2 linked regions of the Homo sapiens genome follow. The protein of the gene in region 2 interacts with the protein of the main gene of each other region in a biochemical or structural test. Each region holds a gene or a part of one and is shown on either strand. Other genes may lie near its edges.

Region 1 (3,500 bases), on a different chromosome or scaffold from region 2:
TTTTACTAAAACACAAAGAGTTTCTTCTGTGGTGTTTCTAAAAACTATGTAGCAAATATCACTGAGCATATCACCTTAATGACCATAAATATTAAACCCACTGCATCAAGCAGGTCCTCTAAAAGTGTGGACCTGTCCAGCAGAGCAGGTGGCTGGCTCCTCACCACCCCACTCCAACCTTAGGAAGGAGAATGGCCTTTCATACCTGTCATCATGAGAAGCAATTCTTTCTCCAAAGACCATCCGGGCAGGAGTTAAAGATAATATTCCGAGCTCCTGGAGCTGGGTTAAGAAGTGCTGTTCTGTTCATGGAATAAGTTGAATATACATTCAGAAAAGGGCTATCTTCCCAAATGTATCAAGAAATGAAAGTACACTCAAATGTTTCACTTGGAGAGCTGTAGAAAACCTTTTTTCTATTGACTCAATTTTACTAACTCACTAGGAATTAAAAAAAAAACAAGCAAGACCCATACTAAGGCAAAAACAACATATGAACTAACTTCAGTTATTTTTTAAACATAAGATTAAACTCATTTGCTTCTCAAGAATAGTAGGCCAGGCACAGTGGCTCACGCCTGTAATCCCAGCACTTTGGGAGGCTGAGGCAGGTGGATTACTTAAGGTCAGGAGTTCAAGACCAGACTGGCCAACATGATGAAACCCTGTCTCTACTAAAAATACAAAATTAGCCAGGTGTGGTGGCGCGTGCCTGTAATCCCAGTTACTCAGGAGGCTGAGGCAGGAGAATCGCTTGAACCCAGGAGGCAGAGGTTGCAGAGAGCTGAGACGGCACTGCTGCACTCCAGCCTGGGTATTTAATGAAGCCTACCATCAAAAACTCTTTCAGAGCTATACTACAAGAAGTAGAGGACAAAGAGAGGGATGATAAGAGACCCTGAGAGAGGGTAGGGGTGAGGCTAGGGCAGATCTAGGGATAGGAGGGGCAAATGGTTCTACCACAAGAAAGATCCCTATGCCAAGAGTCTGTTGAAGCCTCCTCCTACTGGCCTCCTATCTAAATTCTCAAAGGTGTCCATACAAATATTTGCCAGTTTTCATGGGGGTGGGTGATGACAGTGGAGAATGGAGGGTCAAAGCTACATTTTAGAAAACCAGTAATGGGAAAAAGCAGCTAAAAGCTCAGGGCCTGAGATTCCCACACCTGCATTCCCTACAATGGTACTCACCACTGACTTAAGCAATGCAGAGCACATAAGCACTAAGAGACTCCTTCGGCAGGGCGTGGTGGCTCCTGCCTGTAATCCCAGCACTTTGGGAGGGTGAGGTGGGTGGATAACAAGGTCAGGAGTTCGAGACCAGCCTGGTCAATATGATGAAACCCCGTTTCTACTAAAAATACAAAAATTAGCCGGGCGTGGTGGTGCGTGCCTGCAGTCCCAGCTACTCGGGAGGCTGAAGCAGAAGAATCACTTGAACCCAGGAGGCAGAGGTTGCAGTGAGCCGAGATCATGCCGCTGCACTCCAGCCTGAGCGACAGAGCGAGACTCCGTCTCAGAAAAAAAAAAAAAAAAAAAAAAAAAAAAAAAAAAAAAAAGACTCCTTCAGGGATCCAATTGCAAAAATAACAAAATGAGTGTATCTGCTTCATTCCTTATGTACCCTCTGTTAAGATGAATATGCTCTTCAAAATGGGGGAAGTTGGGAATACTTGGGAACTGTGTGGTTTGACCATTTCTGCCCCACTAGTGACTAAACTTCACTTCCTGTTTAATGTGCTGGGCAAGTCCTGTACTGACCCTCCTTCCCCACAATCTACTTTATTTTTCCAGGCCCTCTGATGTGTTAAGTTGCCTGGCACAGCCCCTTCACCTATCTTCCTATCATGACCTATGACACAAACAACCTGAAGTTTCTCTAGAACATTTCATGATTCATAATAAGTTCAAATCTTTCGTGTGTGGCCTGCAAGTCAGCCAGAGTACTTTATGGTTAACGGAAATGATTTATATTAAGCCTTAAATAGACTGTTAAAAAGACGTAACTTGAAGGGGCCAAATTTATGAAGTGACTTCAAAAATACTATCTAAACAGTCAGAAATCCAGCCTAATAAAAAGACATTTTTTAGAAAGTAAAAAGAAAACGTGATATATAATGAACTCTTAATATAACTTCCTGTATAAATAACTATGTTAACTTTCCATCCTACCTCCTAGTATTTGTGATGCTGTGGCACTCTCTTCAATTGATGTTTTGCTAGGTGCAGTAGATTTACAATTTTATTTTTAAAGCCGCTGCCTATGGCACACAGCTCTATTCTAAATAGCATGTGTTGCAATTATAAGCCAACTCATTAAACATTTCACTAGAAATCTGAAAAAATCAGTTTGCCTCACCTGTGACATTAGGATCACGCCTTGTTCTCCACTGAGGGACAAATACAGTGATGTTTCTGTTGCCAAGCTTCCAAAAATATTCAACTGCAATTGCAATTCCACGACAAGAAAAGAACTTTTTCAGACCATGGCTAGAAATTACAAAGTAAAGAAAATAAGTAAAGTTTATTTCTGTTTAAAGCACAGTAAGTTTCACCATGAAAAGTTAACATACACATACAACAAACAGTAAGAACAAAGTTTCCTTTAATATTCTTACATTTTTGGCATTTAGTTGCACAAAGTTAGGATGGAACCCACTGTAGGGGACAGAACTCTTAATAGTGTCTTAGGATTTTTCTCACATTTTGTTAATCTAACTGGGTGTGTTGTTATGATAGAAAGCAGTGAGCTCCATGGTAATACTTGTTCCCTGTGACAGAAGAAAGGGACAAAGATGTGACATGGTCATAACCCCTGCAACCTCCGAAGATGCTGCTGTGTCCTGTCCCAGGAGGGCTCCACTCTTTTTAGGGAATGGCTATATTTACCCAGTTTACAGCTTACGAGAAACACGTTGAGGGCAAGACTCAAATGAAACTAATGGGGGGCCGTGAAAGGCTATTTTAAGAATGCAGAAAGCAGGGAAAAAAGGTAAAAAAAAAAAAAAATTAAAAGAACAGCAACAACAACAACAACAATGAACAGTAGAGAACACAGGTTAGCACACTTTTTCTGTTAAGAGCCACACAGTCTCTGTCATACCACCCAACTCTGAATGTGAAAACAGCCACAGATAACTGTAAGTGAATGTGTGCGGCTATGTTCCACATTTACAAAAACAGGTGGGCGGGCCTGATTTGGCCCATAGTTTACAATCCTTGGTATAGAGGATTAAAAAATGCCCACCCCTCCATCCATAACACATTTCAACGGAAAGGAAGAAAGTACTTAAATTTTACTCTCCAGCAGTTAATTAAACGTGGAGATAAAAAAGTGTTAAAAGTTTAAAATTCTGCAGGTGGTAATTTGTCTACTCATGGGTATTAGAAAGAAAAAAAGACTAAAATCTCAAACTGTGATGCTGTAGTTTATGAGATTAGCATAATCTATGTTCACTGCTTCAATGGTCACTTAGATTCCAGCGACAATACTCCCTGCAT
Region 2 (2,576 bases):
TTATAATAAATTATACAGGCAATCCTTGCTTTTTATTACCACACTGGATTGCTTCTGTACACAGCTAAGTTGCCTGAAGCATGGAAACTTGGACTTCTCCATCTGACACGTTCTGGAAGCCTCAAGGCACAAGCTGACAGTTCTGCTTCTACAGAAAAACTCTCACACTGCTCTCCTCTCAACAGTACTGCCTGTTCCCACTACTCCACATGACACCTACGAGGGCACTACATCACGTGAGGGAAGCTTCTTCATGAGGGCAGACAAGAGGAGGCACCACCCAGGCACTGGTCTCTGCCTGGCATCTATTCCGAGGGCCACCTGGCACAGTTTCTAAATTAAGGCATATCTAAAATGCTTTTCTACCTTTAGTTTTTATTTTTGCTATATTTTTGCACTCTACTATATGCATATTTAATAAAAACAACTACAAAGTCCTTTACTTTAATTCCTTTACATAATGATAAAACACCTAGATACCCAAAATACTACATCTATATATTCAAATCTACTAATCATGTTACAAATGCATGCAGCTTATTTGGGGGCTTAGTCTAATTTTTATTTTCTTAGGTCCATCAATACCATGATAATGAACATTAGATGCAAAATCCTAACACTTTCTGCCTTCAGTTGTACTTTCACAGGACTAGTGTGATTCAGAAATAAATAACATACATGAATAATAATAGAAATAATTTATGCAAATGTAGAACAACTTGAAAAAAAATCCCCCGCCTGTCAGGTGCTGTTCCTGGGGGTAGCTGATGCTATAAATTCCATGTACTAACTAATATATTTACTACAGGTAATAGGAAAACAAATGAATAAAAAGTGAGGAACTATGATATACATGTGTATATTTTTGCAAACACAGGATCAGAATGAAAAGATATATCATGCACTGTGAGGTTTAAGAAATGTATTACTGCTGGGATTTGTTTTATTATTCAGACTTTAAGATCAAACTGAGAGTTGTTGGTGATCACAGAAATATTGCTAGCTGATACATATTATTGCATTTCATAAAACTTAAGATTAGAAACTTTCAAGTAAGGGTACAACGGGTATCTTCAGAACTTTAACCTAAGCACATCAACGGAATTTTTCTAGGGACCACAGAGAGTTAGAAATTAAATAATTGTGTGGCTCTATGTGTGCTGATTAGTGCTACAGTCATAGTTCTTGGCAGTCAATATGTAGTTATATGCCCCCTTTGAGAAAAACCTACATTTGACAATCCAAACTCCTAAAATTGAGAAAGGGTTATTTGTGTGACCAAACAACTCACACGGAAGATTCCTCTCAACATGAAAATCCCCTGCTACATGAGATAATTTGTTTACATACCTTTAATTACCTAACAAAGAAAAAGAGAGAAAAGAAACTGGAAGCTAAAGAATTGAGAGCTTTTGCCAACTGAAGACGAAGCAGAAAATAAACTTTTCAAAACAAAACTTTTCCAGGCATATCTTTCACCATCACATATATAGAATGATGGAAAATAAAAAAATAAAAAAAAATTCCTGCAATTATACATCTTTTCTTTAAAAAAACAAAAACAAAAACAAAAACTGAGCTTAGCGCCTGAGAGATGCGGGGTAGACAGCTTCACACAGGGCAGCTGCTACCGCATCTCTTTTTACCCGAACTTTCGGAGAATTGTGTTGTACTTATTTATGCACAGAAGACACCCGTTTGCTACTAGGGACATTTTTCTTCCTAAGATTTGCAGAACAGATGCCTCTGAGACAGCAGCAGGGCACTCTGACCTCGGAAAGCAGCCCGCGGGGCCGCACATAATTTCAGGCACCGGCAGGTGAGTGGGAGGCGGGGCCCCAGCCCGGCCTCGCCCACTGCCTCTCTCCTGCCAAAGGGGCGGGGCAACGAGGCAGCGCGCCCGGAAGGCTTTCAAGTGGGAATCAAGTTTTGAGCACGAGCAAATGGGGTTCAGACTGGCCACTGTTATAACAAACCCTGGGGTGGAATTCGGCCTTTCGCATAGGGGCTTTAACTGGACTCTAGTTCCTGGGAGCAGAGGGGCGAATGAGGCGGGGGATTTCTCAGCCAGTTTCTGACTGCCCCTAGTGTATGTGGCATTTTGGTTCAGTATGAATTACTGAGACTCATCTGCTTGCCACTCAGGAGGAAAGTTGGGCAGGCACCGTCGAGTGTCTGCCACTCAAAAGGAATAAGCTGCTTTCTGTGGTGCTGTGCTAAGGAAACTGAAAAATACTGCAATATCCTTCCCTACTAAATTTCAAGTGACACTGCTGTGAGAAAGGTGACCTCTAAAATTAACTTAATCATTTGGGGTATAAGAAGTCTTTAAGTAGACTTGTAAATTTAAAAAAAGTATATAAAGTTGCCAAAAAACTTCAAAAGTTAAGTATGTAGACACACTCCTAAGTTGTTATGCTCATATACTTCAGACTTTTTTTTTTTAATTAGAGCTTCTTATGAATTTACATTTGTGATTCCACAAATGTTAAAATTACCTGGTCTTTTGGTATTTTAGGGCTCTGTTTCAATACAGCAATTTTTCAGACAAAAGTTTTGTCTACTGAATTACTGAT

The links.
Region 1: of the proteins of CDK6 (region 2) and N4BP1, one has a biochemical effect on the other in vitro, tested with the Homo sapiens proteins (one large-scale study listed by BioGRID and IntAct).

Annotation. Positions count from the first base shown.
Region 1 is NC_000016.10:48,551,181-48,554,680, forward strand, and holds part of N4BP1 (NEDD4-binding protein 1), read right to left. Parts: intron 2,490-3,500; coding exon 2,359-2,489; intron 303-2,358; coding exon 206-302; intron 1-205. UniProt on the Homo sapiens protein: Potent suppressor of cytokine production that acts as a regulator of innate immune signaling and inflammation.
Region 2 is NC_000007.14:92,606,998-92,609,573, forward strand, and holds part of CDK6 (cyclin-dependent kinase 6), read right to left. Parts: 3' UTR 1-2,576. UniProt on the Homo sapiens protein: Serine/threonine-protein kinase involved in the control of the cell cycle and differentiation; promotes G1/S transition. Phosphorylates pRB/RB1 and NPM1.